Linked DNA regions of Homo sapiens. The protein of the gene in region 2 interacts with the protein of the main gene of each other region in a pairwise test. Each region holds a gene or a part of one and is shown on either strand. Other genes may lie near its edges.

Evidence for each region.
Region 1: the proteins of PLXNA2 (region 2) and CEMIP interact in a two-hybrid assay, tested with the Homo sapiens proteins (one study listed by BioGRID and IntAct).

What each region holds. Positions count from the first base shown.
Region 1 is NC_000015.10:80,775,200-80,782,614, reverse strand, and holds the start of CEMIP (cell migration-inducing and hyaluronan-binding protein precursor), read right to left. Parts: upstream 3,246-7,415; 5' UTR 3,001-3,245; exon of another isoform or gene 491-3,000; intron 1-490. UniProt on the Homo sapiens protein: Mediates depolymerization of hyaluronic acid (HA) via the cell membrane-associated clathrin-coated pit endocytic pathway. Binds to hyaluronic acid.
Region 2 is NC_000001.11:208,038,294-208,045,561, forward strand, and holds part of PLXNA2 (plexin-A2 precursor), read right to left. Parts: intron 6,918-7,268; coding exon 6,774-6,917; intron 6,450-6,773; coding exon 6,215-6,449; intron 4,911-6,214; coding exon 4,768-4,910; intron 4,074-4,767; coding exon 3,805-4,073; intron 1,766-3,804; coding exon 1,699-1,765; intron 1,475-1,698; coding exon 1,328-1,474; intron 692-1,327; coding exon 532-691; intron 182-531; coding exon 78-181; intron 1-77. UniProt on the Homo sapiens protein: Coreceptor for SEMA3A and SEMA6A. Necessary for signaling by SEMA6A and class 3 semaphorins and subsequent remodeling of the cytoskeleton. Plays a role in axon guidance, invasive growth and cell migration.

The DNA.
Region 1 (7,415 bases), on a different chromosome or scaffold from region 2:
ACACTTTTGTGGGGGGAGAAAACTCTAACTGGAAGACTGGGTACTATACAATTCCATTCTCCAAACTTCTGTGGTGTGTCATGTATTAGTGATGTCTACCAGACAGAACCCTGAAATGCAGAGCTGGAAGGGACCCTCCAGTCCAGCTGGGATCAAATAAGTGCTCACTGCTCTGGGCAGAGCAAGTATCTTGGTCAGAATCTCACACCTAAGCAAGGCTCAAGCATGAAGTAAGGTGCTTCCTGCTTGGCAATGACCACTCAGTGAACCCCTGGGCAAAGTTCCACTCCATAAAGCTAACCCCTACTTCATCCTGGAGTGATCTAGAAACCAGGCCTTAGAGGCCACTCTCCATCAATACCCAAGAGTACTTCACTTGCAGAAAGACAACAAAGCCACTTAGAAGACCTTGCATTCTTGTGAGAGAACAATCAGGAAAAATTGATCATCTGAACCAGAGGGCTGTGAGAGTATTTTGAAAACAACTTACTTTTATCTTTCCTCCAAGTAGTGTAGGTAGGGGAAAACAGTTGACCGATTTTTATCACATAAAAGTTCTTCCATTTGTCTTTAAATAAGAATTTTTTTTTCATTGTGATCAACTCCAGCATTTTCATCAATTCCATCAACAAGTTCTCGGATGCAAAAATAAAGTGAAGATGGAGTCCCTATCAAACAGTTACTAGGTTAAGAGAGAGGGCAAAGGGATGGTGAACATAATTCAAAAGAAATGCACAACTGTCTTTAAAATATACCTGTAATTGCTACCATTTAAAACGATTTCTCTATGCTCAGCACTGGATTAAATGCTTTACATTGTACCAATTACTGTAATTCTCATAGCAACCCTGCAAGATGGCATTGCGTTATTCCCAGTTTACATATCAGCAAACAGGCACAAAACATTTGAGCAACTTTCCCAAAGTCACAGATGCTGTCTCAAAATTTTTTTTTATAAGAGGTGTTTACTTGTTTTTACTCTCCGTCGGCCTTTGTCAGTCACACACAAAAAAAGCAGACCTGCGTTTCTTGTAATTTTAAAATAAAGGAAGATACACACTTCAGTATGGGTGGAAATGACAAAAAGAGCCCCATCCAGTGTCGTTTCTTACCAGAGAAGGGAGATCTTTAATTTGGTGCACAGATTAAACCCTACAGGTTTTTCCACCCTGTTTCAAGTGACCAACTTGAAAAGTCATCTACTGGGCTAAAAAGGAGCCTTTGGAAATTGCTTTAAGAAAGTCATGGGCTTTGAACAAAACTATTAGGATCAGAAAACCGCATAGTTGCTTTTGCAAATGCATCCGATTGCCTTCTCTATAAATTTGCTCTATTTGATTTCTTCTCCATTCTATCATTAATCGTAAAACTAATATATCCTCCCAATCCCATATGTACTAAATAAATAATTTAATTTGATGGAACACATGAACTTGTGCCCTACACAGAAAACAGTTTGAGCTGGATCCCTAATTATGTCTGGCGTAATTGTATCTGGCATTATCTCACTGCCTGGGTCGGATTCTCAGGGGCCATACTTTCCTAACAGCTCTGAGGGGTCTCCGTGGTGTCATAGAAAAGCCAGAGAACCACAGAGTGCCCCCGGGAGGTCCTGCAGAACTGCCGGCTCAGCTAGGACCTGGTCACAAACCACAGACTCCTGAGGGCTGGGCTGCCTCCTGAGTGGTAATACCGAGGGCCCCAGCGGACTCTCAGTCCCTTTCCTCTTTCCCAGCGCCCCAACGCCTTGGGTCTGGGAAGAAAGCGCACGACTTCCCCGGAGACCCAGGGCCACAGACCCCGAGTGGAGGAAGTGGCTGGGAGCTGTCCATGGTGGCGTCGCGCCTGGGCACGCAGAGCCGCCGGCTCCCCGCCCTCGGGCGCGCCCTGGATCACTTTCCAGACCGCAGGGATGGAGAGACGCGCTCCCCGGCTCACCGTCCCTGGTATGGGGCTGCAGCCAGGCACTGGCTCACACATCAGAAGATTAGTTTTTAAAGGGAGCTCTCACCTGTGGGTAGCGTTGGCTGCTTGGAGAAGGACTCAGGACCTCAAACCCGGCAGCTGGCGGAACTCCTGGGACTGCCGTAGCGTCCGACCCTTGGGGAACAGCGGCTGTCGCAGAGAGTGTCTGCGGCTGAGGACCCAGGGCGCACAGCGCTCCTCTCTCATGAGCACACGCATCCCTTGGGGTCCATTCCAGAATGTCACTGGCCTTCGTTCCCAGAGCGGCGAGCTGGAGACCTGGCCAGCGTTCTGCCAGGACTCTCTGCCTTTCCTCACAACCTAACGCGACCTTTCTTGGAGCCGACGTCCTTTGCCAGGGACCACCAGACCTTCTTCCAGCGATGCCACGTTTGGAGTCTCAGTCTAAACATCAGCAGAGCCCCCCGGGTTCATCTAACATTGCAATTGCCTCAGCTCGGCCCCGCGCCAGCGCGTCGCTGGGTGCCTAGCGCTGTCCCGGAGGCACTGGGAGGCGAGGGAAACTGGGAGGAAGAGCGTGCTGAGGCAGGAGCAGCAGGGCGCAGACCTGTTGCTAGGCGCACGCCCGCTAGAGCTCGGCGTGAGCTGGCTCCCAGTCGGCAGGACACCGAGACCTGACCCTTGTGGTACTCCCTCCTCGGCGAGACACTCTCCCGGGCGCAAGCCCCCGGTGCCATTCAGAAGGGGGAAAATCTACGGAAAGCAGGAGTCTGCCCCCTCTGGATGCCCTCTGGGGACTCCAGCGCCCCCCGGCACCTGCAGCTTGTAAAGCATCACAAGATCTCAGAGAAATCCCACAGAGGACAGTGCCAAGAGCGTGTGCCCATCAACAGACGCATGGACAAACAGACAGATAGAGGTAGACTGCACAGCACAGGGTGGACAGACAAACAGAAACTGAGGCGGGTAACGTTTACCCTGTGCCGGGTGGAGGCGCGGGCCCCCACTTCTTACCTCTCTTCCGTGGCATGGGCCGTCAGCTCATCCCTGACGCCCCCAGCCAGGCCCTCTTACCTCTGGGTCTGTAGCCGAGACAGTGTCACGCCTCGCGGGCCAGGAGCGCAGCGGCCCCGGACGTCTGGTCGCTGACCGCCAGGCGCCGCGAGCTCCCGGGGCGTGGGCAAGCGGAGTGGTAGCTAGTCTGGGAAATCTGGGTTCAGACCCTGGCCGCGCTCAGCCCCGCTGGCTCCCCGCGCCGCTTGCGCTCGCCAGGCTCTGTCCGATAGCACCGCGCTGGGCTCTGCTTGAGCGCTAGCTCCCCGGCCCTCAGCCGAGAGGCCGCTTTTATAGCCACTTTTACTGACTCCTCCCCCGAGGAGCCCCTGACGCCCGCGCGGCACCGAAGCTCCCTCCCTCGCCCCCCGATGAAACTTCCCTCCACGCGCCCCCGCCTTGCCCAAGTGGGGCGGGGGCCCTGTGCCCGGGCCGGACCGGGGCGGGCTCTGGCGGCGGCTCTGGGAGACGCAGACCTGAGCCCGCGGAGCCCGGGTGCGCAGAGTCCCGCCCGCAGCAGCCAGGTGAGGGCGCTGGAGGCCAGGACTCGGTGGAGCGGCCGCGGCGGACCGCGGAGAGCAAGTCCCCGGGCCTCCAAGGAGCCAGGGTCGCCCGTGCCCCGCTCGCGCCCCGGGGCGCCCTCCGAGGCAAAGAGGCAGTGGAGGACAGGAGAAAAGGTCTGCGCCTGCCACAGAATCGCCGCGAGTCGGGGTCCCAGGCTAAGTCTCAGGATCTCTTTTTAACTCAGCAGCAAAAGAGTAGCCCGAGAAAGAGATTTTGGTATTGGCCTAGCAGTTAATCCGAGAGGAAGATGCTTGGGTGTTCACTGAAAGGCACCTTGGTTTGAAACTGGATTCAGACATGCCAGTTACAACTGTGTACAGGATCTTAACCCCTCCCAGTCTCAGTTTCCTCATCAGGAAAATGGGTTCTGTGATGCTTCCTCACTAGAATGGTGAGGCTTAAATGAGATCAGGAAAGTCCAAGTTCTAAGCACATAATAGGTGCTTGGTAAGTTAGAAACATTCCCTGTGGGTAGGAGGGCTCTGTGCCTCTTTAACTGGACAGGCCAAAGTTCTGAAGGGTCAAAGCAAGAAGGTGCGGCTGGTCTAGACATTCCCTCGCGGGAGGAAACAGTACCAGTAGGAAAAGTTCATCACAACACATCCCTAGGGCATATGGAGTCTCCTCTCAACTCTGCCGCTAACCTACTGTGTGACCAGGGCCAGCTACTTCCCCTGTCTGAGCCTCAGGGTGGTTTTTTTGCAGGGAGGTGAGGAGTGTTTGTTTTTCTTGTTTTGTTTTAATCTGTAAAATGAGGGCGTTGATACCTGCTCTCTGCCTCTTCCACCTTTCAGAGTGTGACTCAGCCCCCTTTCCTGGTTAGCAGAGGCCTCCTAGAATATACATTTCTTTCTTCCTTCCTGCCAGTGTTCTCTGAGAACCAGCTCCTCAGGCAAGGTCTCCATTCTGTGTAGTACACACTAGCTCCGGGACTCTAGGTCTGGACTTTAAGGCCAGGCTGTGGTCGGCAGAAGCTGTGGAAGTCTGTGATCACATCTGGGCTGAAGCAGAAGCCTTTGTCACCTGGTTAAACTGGGAAGTCCTGCAATCCACCTCTAGGCCTCTTCCAGAAAGCGGAACTTGATCCTTACTGGGGGTGGTGGTCAGGATTCTCAGCCCTTCTTTGATTTATTGGGAAGTAATGAACTGGATCCAATGGCAAGCCCTCCTCCCCAACCTTTTCTTTCCAGCCGAATAAAATGGAGCCCCCCCGACCCAGGGCCCCTCTCCCCAGTCCTCACCATGATTCCTGTTTATGTTTTTCTTCCTTAAGGAGCTCCCAGAAACCAGACCCACAAAGAGTTGTGTGTTAGGGGTTTGGGGGTGCTGGGCATTTGGCCCAAATGGAGAAAGGTCGACCTTGAATCAGCCTGGCTTGGCACGACATGCAGGATTTTCCATCAACAGACAGTAGATTTGAGGCCTGAGTGGAGCCAGGTAGCTCTCTGGTGAGGGGCTGGCTCCACAGCCATCTGGGAGATGAAGTGGTAAAGGCAGGGTCCTGTCTAGGGATGGGCCCTGAGAAGTGCTTGGCTATGTTTTCTCAAAGCACTGAAATGCCCAGCACATTCCTCTGGTATCCAGTTTTCTTTATCACAGACCAATGCCCAGGGGAAAAGAGCAGTGCTGATGAATTACAAACAGGCTCCGAATGTCTAAAACCAGATTCTCCAGCCAGTTCTCCATTCAGCACTGCCATTCAGCACTCAGTGATGAACGGGGCGTGCCGCGTAATTCTTTATGGATAAATATAGCAACATGACACTGGTGGATTTACTGCCCACACTTTCGCAATCCATTGTCTTGCTCTTATAAATGCAGAGACAGGAAAGAGCTGGTCAAGAAAGGCTGTGTTAGTTTTCTGATTCTTGCCGAAATCTCCCAGCAGAGAGTCTCCAGAGAGAAGGGAAACGCCCATCAATGGTGTGACCTGCCACCCAGAAAGCCTGCCCTTCCTCCATTCTTTGCATTTGCCTCCAACCCACCTTCCTCAGGTGGGATGCAGCCCCCTCAGCTACATCCTTGTGCAGTAGATTGGCCTGCCTGCTCACTGTTGCCTCAAGCTGCCCAAGTCTGGCATCCTCAGTCTGCTGACAGGATGCCACATCTGTTCCCTAAAACAAGGGCCTCCACACTCCACCTGCTGATCAGCAAAGACAGCACCTGACCCTACAGCAGCCTGCCTTATTACAGTTTAAAAGGTTGGCCACACCTGTGGCTCCATACGCCAAGCCTCCAGACCCAGTTGTCCAGGAAAACCTGGAGTAGACGGGTGGAGGACAAGGAGAAAAGGGAAGCAGGATGTAGTTAGGGTAGTGTGTGAGTGGGCTGTGGGCCTCAAGGTTTCCAGCAGACCCACAAAAAATTAAAACTGAATTGGGCATCTCCACCCTTGGAGAAGCAGCTCACGAATAATGAGCATACTTAAGTCCCACCAACAGGGGTCGCCCTTAGACACTGGGCCTGAAGCTGGCATCAGAAAAGGGAAATTCCCAGGCCTGGATCCGGAGGCCAGATTTCCAGCTCTCAGAGCTGTTGATTCCTGTCTTGTTGGACACAGAAGAGGCTGCCCAGCTGAAGAGAGACATGTCCTCAGCTTTTCTGGTGAGTGAAGGCCTGTGCTGGAACTTATGACAGCAAATCCCAGCTCTGAAAGTGGATTTCTATATCTTCCTCTTCAAACTCACCGTCACTCTAGAGAAAGAACTCTTCTTTCCTGTGTTTTATTTATGTCTAAAACATAGGTAAACGGTGTATGTATGATGTCTTCTTCTTATTTATTTCCTTTTGTTCTAATTGCAAAAAATCACACATGTTCCCTGTAAAAAAATCAACCAACCAACCAACCTTGAAAAACTTAAACAATGAACAAAGAGAAAAGAAATTACCTAACATCAAACATAATGTGTATACATTACAAAAGCTTGAAAAATACAGAAAAACACAAAGGAAAGAAAAAAAAATCACTTCCACTCAAAAATTATTTCTGTTAATTTCAGTATATAGCCAAGCATTTTTCCATGTATAAGTTACATATATAGTTTCACAAATAGATAAATGTATGTAAGTGTTCCATAAATCTTCAATAGCTAGCTCAAAATTATTCTCTTCCATCAGATTGCATGTTCTGAGAGGGCAAGGGCTGTGTCTCTCAAGTTTACCCATCTACCCTGTAGTAGCTCCTATAGTGGCCAACATGAAGTCCACGTGTAGTCCACCGTCAATGAATGAATACACGAATGAGCATTTCCTATAAAGATAACATACATGCGATGGAAAAGGAGACCCAAGTAGTTTACAAACATTTGAAAAGATGCTCAACTTAACACATAAATGAAGAAATACAAATTAATACTAGGCCGAAATACCTGTCAGGCTGGCAAAAATCCAAAAGTTTGACCCTACCTCTGCTGCGGAGGAGGCCAGTAAGGGTGGAGAATCAACCTTTGCATACATCACTGATGAAAACTTACGTTGGTACAACTTGGGAGGGCAGTTTGACAAGATTTATGAAAATATACATAATGTTTGACTCAGCAATTCCAGGAATTTATCTTACAGCTATAATGTGTGAAACAAATAGCACCAGGTTATACACTGTAGCCCTATTTTTAATAGTAAAACAACAACAACAACAACAAACTAGCCTAAGTGCCCAGTAGTAGGGCTAATTAAATAGTGTTGCATCTATATGATGGAGTATTATACAGCTGTTTAAAAGCTGAATAGAATTCTTTTTTTTGAGACGGAGTCTCACTCTGTCGCTGTGGCTGGAGTGTGGTGGTGCCAACTCAGCTCACTGCAACCTCCGCCTCCTGGGTTGAAGTGATTCTCCTGCCTCAGCCTCTGGAGTAGCTGGAACTGTAGTCGTG
Region 2 (7,268 bases):
TTGAGGCCTTAGAGCAAGGCTTAGCGGGAAGGGAACATTCTGGGAAGCTGAAGAGGGGAAAAGACACCCCCTCTCACCTGATAATGCATCAGTGTGTTGAGCCGCTTCCAGTCACCCTCAATCTTGGTGGTGATGTCCTCATCTTGCAGCACGACCCGGGCGATCCGGCCTTGGCGCCACTCTGGGTGGAGGGGGTGGTGCAGGGAGCGGCGTGAGAGGGATGAGGGCTGTGAGCCAGTGTCTCCCGATTGCACCTTCTCTAGGGACCTGGCAACCCGGCCCCCTCAAGCTGGTACCAATAACAGAGGCTAGAGACATCTAGGGCTCCATGGGCCCAGGCAGCAGAGGAAACACGTAGACCTCCCCAGAGACAGCCACATCTGAACAGGCAGCGCTCAAAGCGGGAAGCATTTCACACGGGCCTCAGCTGGCCAGGACACAGTCATGCCCCTGCAAGGGTTGTGTGCATGGCAGCTTCCCTTCCTTCACCTCTCAACCCCTGCCCTCACACTCTGAGTCCAGGTTTCCTACCCAAGTCCATGTCCACTGCCCTCGGCCGCTGGGAATAGGGCACATTCTTATACACGGCATCAAGAATCTTCTCCTTGACCTGTGTGATGGTGTCACAGTTTAACACCTTCACTGGGATCTCTGGACTGTTCTCGTTGTCAGGGTTGACGCAGTTCAGGATCTACAAGTAGGGGACAGAGGGTGAGCAGGACAGGAGTTGAAGGAGTAGTTTGAGGGAGAGGGTCAGGACCTCAGAATCTTCTTTTTCCAAAGTTCACCCTCCTTATAGGGGAAATAAGGGTACTTTTCTGGTCTGTGACTCAGTTTCCCTCACCTTCATAACATCTGCCAAATGAGAGTCTGAGTCATTGTGTCCAATTCTTCTTTCTCAAAGCACCAGGACTCTACTTTCTAGCTCCTGGACAGCTTAGGGGAGACTATAGTCCTGGAATGAGGCACCCTCAGTGTTTAGAGATGGCTCTACATGTATCAGAGACTAGTCATGCACTTCCCCAAAGCCTCTATGTTAGGAACCAACATACATCTTTCTCATAATACCAATTACCCAATAACTAATGATGGGTGAACTTTTTTCTCCCCCAATATTATCTAGGATAAACCGAGGCATAGAGTGCTTGGGATGGGTGGGCGGGCCTGCCACCTTGCTCTTGGTACACTTAGTTGTCCTTTGGGCTCACCCCAGACCAGCCTCCCATCCTCTTTATTGACCCCCTAGACTGCTTTTATGGACAGAAGGCAGAGCAAGGGGCAGAAGTAGAAGATACACAGGCGGGCCCGGAGCTTCCGGCTTCCTCACCAGGGTCTTGTACTCGATCTGCTGCCGGATGAGCTTGTCCTCGCTCAGGGAGTAGCGGGCCTCGCCCGTGATGGCATCAATGGGGCCCTTCTCCATCTGCTGCTTGATGGCACAGTATAGCATGAAGAGTGGCTCCCCTGCGCACTCCTGTGGGCACAGACAGGGCAGGAGGTGTGGGCACGGCCTCCTCAGGTTTGTACGTTTTCCCTTTCCTCTCTCGGAGCGAGGCCAGTGGAAGGAAGGGCTTTAGCACAGCCAGTCCAGGTTCCTGCTCCCGAGGGAGGGGGTCCCCATGCAGCCCTGTGGCCAGGATCTAAGCAGCAGTGCCATCCTGCCCTGGACGCTAGGCCCCGTCTCACTCCCTTTCTCACCTTTAGGAACTTGTGCAGGAGGAAGGCGAACCAATTGGTCAGCATCTTTTCAGCCACAGACTCTGTCCTGGGGAAGGGACAAAGGGTAAGGGGCAGTCCTTCACAGAGGGGTCTCCGTGGTGGGGCCTGGGCTTGCCATGAGGTCTCCCAAGAGAACAATGGAGCATGGGAGAACGCAGGGCGGGAGTCAGGACACCTGGGTCCCAGCCCAGCTCACCCAGTAACTAGACTGTGACCTGGGGGTAGGGGTGGCTTCTTTCTGGGCCTCAATTTCCTATGAAAATGGAGAGGTTGGCCTTTTCAGCCCTGATGGTCCGTGGTGCTCTGAACTTTGGCTGCATCTGAGACAGGGTCTGTGGATAAAGGCACCTCACTATCCCACAGGGCTATAAAGAACCGGTTCTCCCAACTCACTTCTGGCCTCAGGGTGATAACTAGAGAGTTTCCCAGTCCCTCTGGGCTTTCTTGCATGTGTGAGTACCCTGTTTTGCCTATCTGGAAGGTGCCTGGTCCCTTCCCCTCCAAAAACACTCAAGGTTAGACTTCCTTGGGTTCAAATCCTGATTCTGCCATACGTTGGCTGTGTGACCTTGGGCAAGTCATTTAACCTCTCTGGTTTCAGTATTCCTATCACTAAATGGAGACAGTCATAATAACATCCAACCCCAGTGGTTGTTGTCAGGGTTGAATGAGTTAATATTTGTAAAGTGCTAAGAAAAGTGCCTGGCACCTGCTAAGCACTATCCATTAGCTGTCATTATTGCTGTCATGTGGGGTCTTGGATCCCAGCCCTCAGGTAGAGAGCAGTGCTTAAGTGTTTTGCCAACAGGGGATTTGCTCATGCAAGGGCTGGCCCCCCTCCCCTTCCCATCCCAGGGCTACAGATCTGGGGATTTGGGAAGGAACAAAGCGGCTGTGACAGACCCTCAGTGAAGGGGATGCCGGAGGGGTATTTTAACTCCCTGCACGTGGTGCAAATTATATCCTCTGGTTGCAGTAAATCCCAGGCATTTGCCAGGGCTGCTCAGCAATCTGGGCCTGGGAGAGAGTGACAATGGCAGAAAAAATTGTAGCTTTCTCCCGTGGCTCCTCCCAGCACCCTCTCCCTGCATTGTGCTTGAGATTAGCTCTAATTTAAATACAACAGTTCTTAATGAGAGTTTCTAATGCTCAGATTGGCAGGATGGGGGCTCAGTACTCATAAAGCAAAGCCATTCTTCCTCCCTCCTCACCCCACGTGGGGCCTGGAAGCCTGAGACCTTGCTAGAGGAAGGCTAAAGAGGAGGGGTGGTGAACGGAGGTGCAGCCCTCCAGCCCCTGCTGCCCAGAGGACTCCAAAGCTGTGCCCGGCTCCCCACGGCCTCTAGAGAGGGTGGGCTCAGGGGATACTGAGGTCTCCAACCCTCTCCCCTGCCAGGAAAAATGCAGTGGGCATGTGTAGTGGATGCTGTGATTCAGATCCAGGAAGCTGAGCTCAGAAGGCACGGCCTTCTAGGCTGTCCAAATCCCTAGCTCAGTGCTGCGCAATAGAACCTTCTGCGATAATGGGAATGTTCTCTATCTGTGCGGTCCCGTATGGTGGCCACTAGCTGCAATGTGGCAACCAAGCACTTAGAAAGCGGCTAGGTGCTAGGGCAATGGAGGAGCTGGATTTTACATTCTATTTCATTTTAATTTGTAGCAGCTACCTGTGGCTAGGGGCCGCTGTGCCGGACAGCACAGCTCTAGAGGCACCGGGAGGAAGAGACTGTGAGATAGGAATTATTTTTCTCATTTTGTCTAGGAGGAAACTAAACAACAGAGTGGTTACAACACTGGCCAGAAATCACAGAGCTAGCAGGAGGCAGAGCTGGGACTCCAGCTGAGATCCGAGCAAGGGTCTGAGCTCATCCATCACACCTGGGTGACTTCAGACTCTGTAGTCTCCCTGGGCTGAGGGAAAGTCAGATTCTGCCCTGCAGAGACGTGAGGACACAGGCTGCTCTGAATGGGTGCCCCTTCTGGGGAGTGGGCCTTCTCATGCTGCTTGTGGGGCCTGCTATAATGAGGTGCTCTGTCCAGGTTCAGACTCCTGCCACCCTCTCCACCCACTGCTGCGGGCCAGACCTCCGGAGTAGCAGCTTGGGGTGGTTCTTGTTCTCCAGGTTCTTATCGATGAGGTCAGAGAGCAGCTGCTTGAGGACATCAGTGGCATATTCCAGGCGGCCCTGCAGGCCGGTCATGATGAGCGAAGCCACGTTGCCCCGGTCGCGCATGGAGAAACTGCGCTGCAGCTCCAGGGTGCGGATGAAGGTCAGCAGGAACACCTTGTTGTTGATGAGCTGGGCAAAGAGCTTCAGGGCCTTCTCCACGTGCTGCTGCCCGTTTCCTTGTACCTGGGGTGGGGTGTGGTGGAGGCGACGCCCTCAGAGGACAGGCATCGGGCCTCCTACCTGAGGGTCTCACTGAGGGCCTGCTGGCGATGACACTAGCTGTAGGACCCTATGTTTGAGGCCTATAACCAACCCCACCCCATTCCACTCACCCGTGATGATGTAGGAACAGCTGGCTCTAAGGTCGACAGTCTGCTCTGACCTTGCACTGGGCCGGGGAGGCTGGGCTCCATGCGGAGCTCTCAGAGGGGAGGCTGCCTGATTTTCCCAAGGATAGAATAGGAGATGCCCCCTCAAACTTCTTCAGTTTACTAGTCTCCCCTTAATCTCCTCTGCCTGATTTATTATCTTTAGTAAAACAAACCAACAAATGAACAAACAAACCTCATAGAATCCTGTGTCTTTCTTTAAGCCATCTTAAATCCATTTTAGAATGAGGCAGGATCTTAGTTAATTAGTTCAGTCATTAATTAAAAAATGACAAACAATGAGCTTTACCCTGGAACCATCCCAAGGAGCCTGGGTGCCCCCTCAGCCGTAACCTTCCTGATAGCTCTGTTGCTGAGATGCTGTTACAAACTACTGACCCCTCTTCCCTGCTAACCTTACTCAGTACTGCTGAGTCTCATCTGGATTTCCTAGGATACCCTGGGCCTGCATCCCTGCTGGGTGGCTGGGCCCAGGAGGCAGGCATTACCTCCAGCTCCCGCAGGACGGGGTGGTCCTCGATGCCCGGGAACAGGACTCGCATAGCGTAGGTACGATAGTCCAGGTAAGGGATTCCTGAGCGGTCCAGGTCACTGGTCAACTCATTGATATCCGTCTGGAGCTCAGCAAAAGCTATGAGAATAAGCAGACGGAGAGGCTCGTGGGGAAGCCCCAGTCGGGGGAGGAGAAAGAGGGAGAAGAAGTTTGCAAAGGACGAGGGGAGGACCTTTTGTAGAGACTCTGAGGATTACGGGAGTGTGTCTCCAGAGGGCGGGGCTACTCCCAGCTGTTTTTAGGTGGTGGGGAAATGGGTGATTTTTATGTTATTTTCTCCTCTATACTTATCTATAATTTCAAATTTTCTCTTTACATATTACAAGTGTAGTTTCAACAAGGAAAAAAAAGTATCATGATTGGGCCGTTTAGTAAAGATCACGGAGATGCTGGAGGCAGGTGAGAGACCATGGCTGAGGGGGTCCAGCAAAGACCAGAACAGGCAAAGTGCTGCCCTTTTCTAATCAAGGTAATAAATCAAGATGCAAAAGCCTAGGGGAGGTCTGGTCATGAGACGCTCAGCTGAGAGCCGAGTTTGGGAAGGCAAGGGCTTCAGAAGCCTCACCTTGGTGGTGGCACACCTGTCTTCCTGGCTCCTTCCTCTGCCAAACTCACCAGCCCTGTTGCCAGGAGGAACCTTGGCTCCACATGTCCTATTTCCCAGCCCAGCTCTTCCCTGTCATCCAGCAGAGGGCTTGTTTCTGATCTTGACATTTGCAGCAAAAGGAGAAATGTTTTCATTCCTAATTGAGCTGTTTACCCAGAGAGCCTGCCAGGTCCTCAGCCTGAGAGGACGCCAGGTACACTCGTCACCTCGAGGCTGTGGTTGCGTGGGACATGGGAGAAAACACAATCTGCACTCCCACACACGTCCACAGCCAAGGACACCAGCAAGTGGCGGCCTTCAGAGCGCTCAGCCTGCAGCACTGATGGAAAACAAACCCTGGGGGAGATGAGGCAGGTGCTTGTCTGCCTTTGCTGCCGCTGCTCCCACGTGCTGCGAAGACAGTGTGCAGAAAAACAAGAGCTGGACACTCCCATGGGGGATCTAGAGTCTGGGGCTGTGGAGCCTGGGGACTCTGACTGTGGGGACATTGAGGCCCTGAGAGGGAGAAAGTGTTTGCCAGATTGTGGGATGGGTCAGGGCAAAGAAGGGACTAGAACAATGCAATTGGACCTGGGTCCTCATGCAGTGGGCATTCTTCATTGGACATCTCTGACCCTATAAGCAAAAGAAGTTCTGGGAAAACAGGGGTGAAAGTGGAATGCAGAGGCATGGCTGGCAGCGATGGGAGTAAAGATAGGAGTTGTCTGCAGGGAGAAGGGCAATAAGGCAGGTGGAGAAAGAGGGACCCAGCAAATGAGGGTGTGCTTCCACTAACCTTCCTTGCACTCCAAGGCCACACGGGACTCCAGATTGTCCATCTGCATTTGCAGCCGCTTGAGAGTGAGGTCATTTTCTCGAGACTTGCGCTTGTAGGCAATGAGGACGATGATGACGATGATGAGGAGGAGGCTGCCGCCGGCCGCGATGCTGACGATGGCTGGCAGGGTCAGCAAGCTGTCTGAGATGACACTCACCGAGCCAGGCGAGAACACCATCCCGCCCACGTGAACCTGTGCATTGTACACATACAGACGCACATGGATGCACACAGGTGTAGAGCCCGGGCATGCCAGCAGATCCTTACAGTGCGAGGAAGGACATGACAGACCACAACCACACAGTGCAGCTCTAGATAAAAAGCAATTTCCTGCCTCGGCATCTGCCTTTCTTTTCTTGTGTTCTCAGCTTATACCCAATTTGATGTAGGACCCAGAGATGAGGAGATATGGAGGGGGTGAGTCAGGCAACGAGACAGAAGAGAGCCTTTCCTTAGGACAGATCACACATGCACCACGAGGCGGGAAGGAGGCATTACAGACGCAGGGCTCACTCACCATGACCTTGTGCTGCCCGGTGAGGTTGGGAGGCTCGCAGAGAAGCTGGGTCTCAGATACGGTGACAGCACAAGGGGTCTCTCCGATGAGCACAGTGTAGTTGAGTTTGGCCCCTCCAGAGGCAGGAGGGCAGAGGTTTTTGCCCTGTAGAGAATAGCAGTCTTTATAGGCATAATTGACACATGCACGCACAAGTTAATTGCCTACTTAAAAAGAGATTAAGGAGACGGGGAAGGGCAGCAGTGCAAAAACCAGGAAATGACTCCTTGGCAAGTTTTTGTGGAGGGGACTTCTAACAGCCATGATCTAGAGAGAAAGAGAGAAAACAGACGCAGGAGAGAATGAAAATGAAGAAGAGAGTGGGAAAAATGCAGAGGAGACAAAACACTAAACAAGAGAAAATTTTGGGGGAGGATGCATGGGATTTCACGAAAGTAGTGGGGCAACAAATCACTTGGATGGACAGTGCCAGGGACTGTGACCTCTGGAAATGTG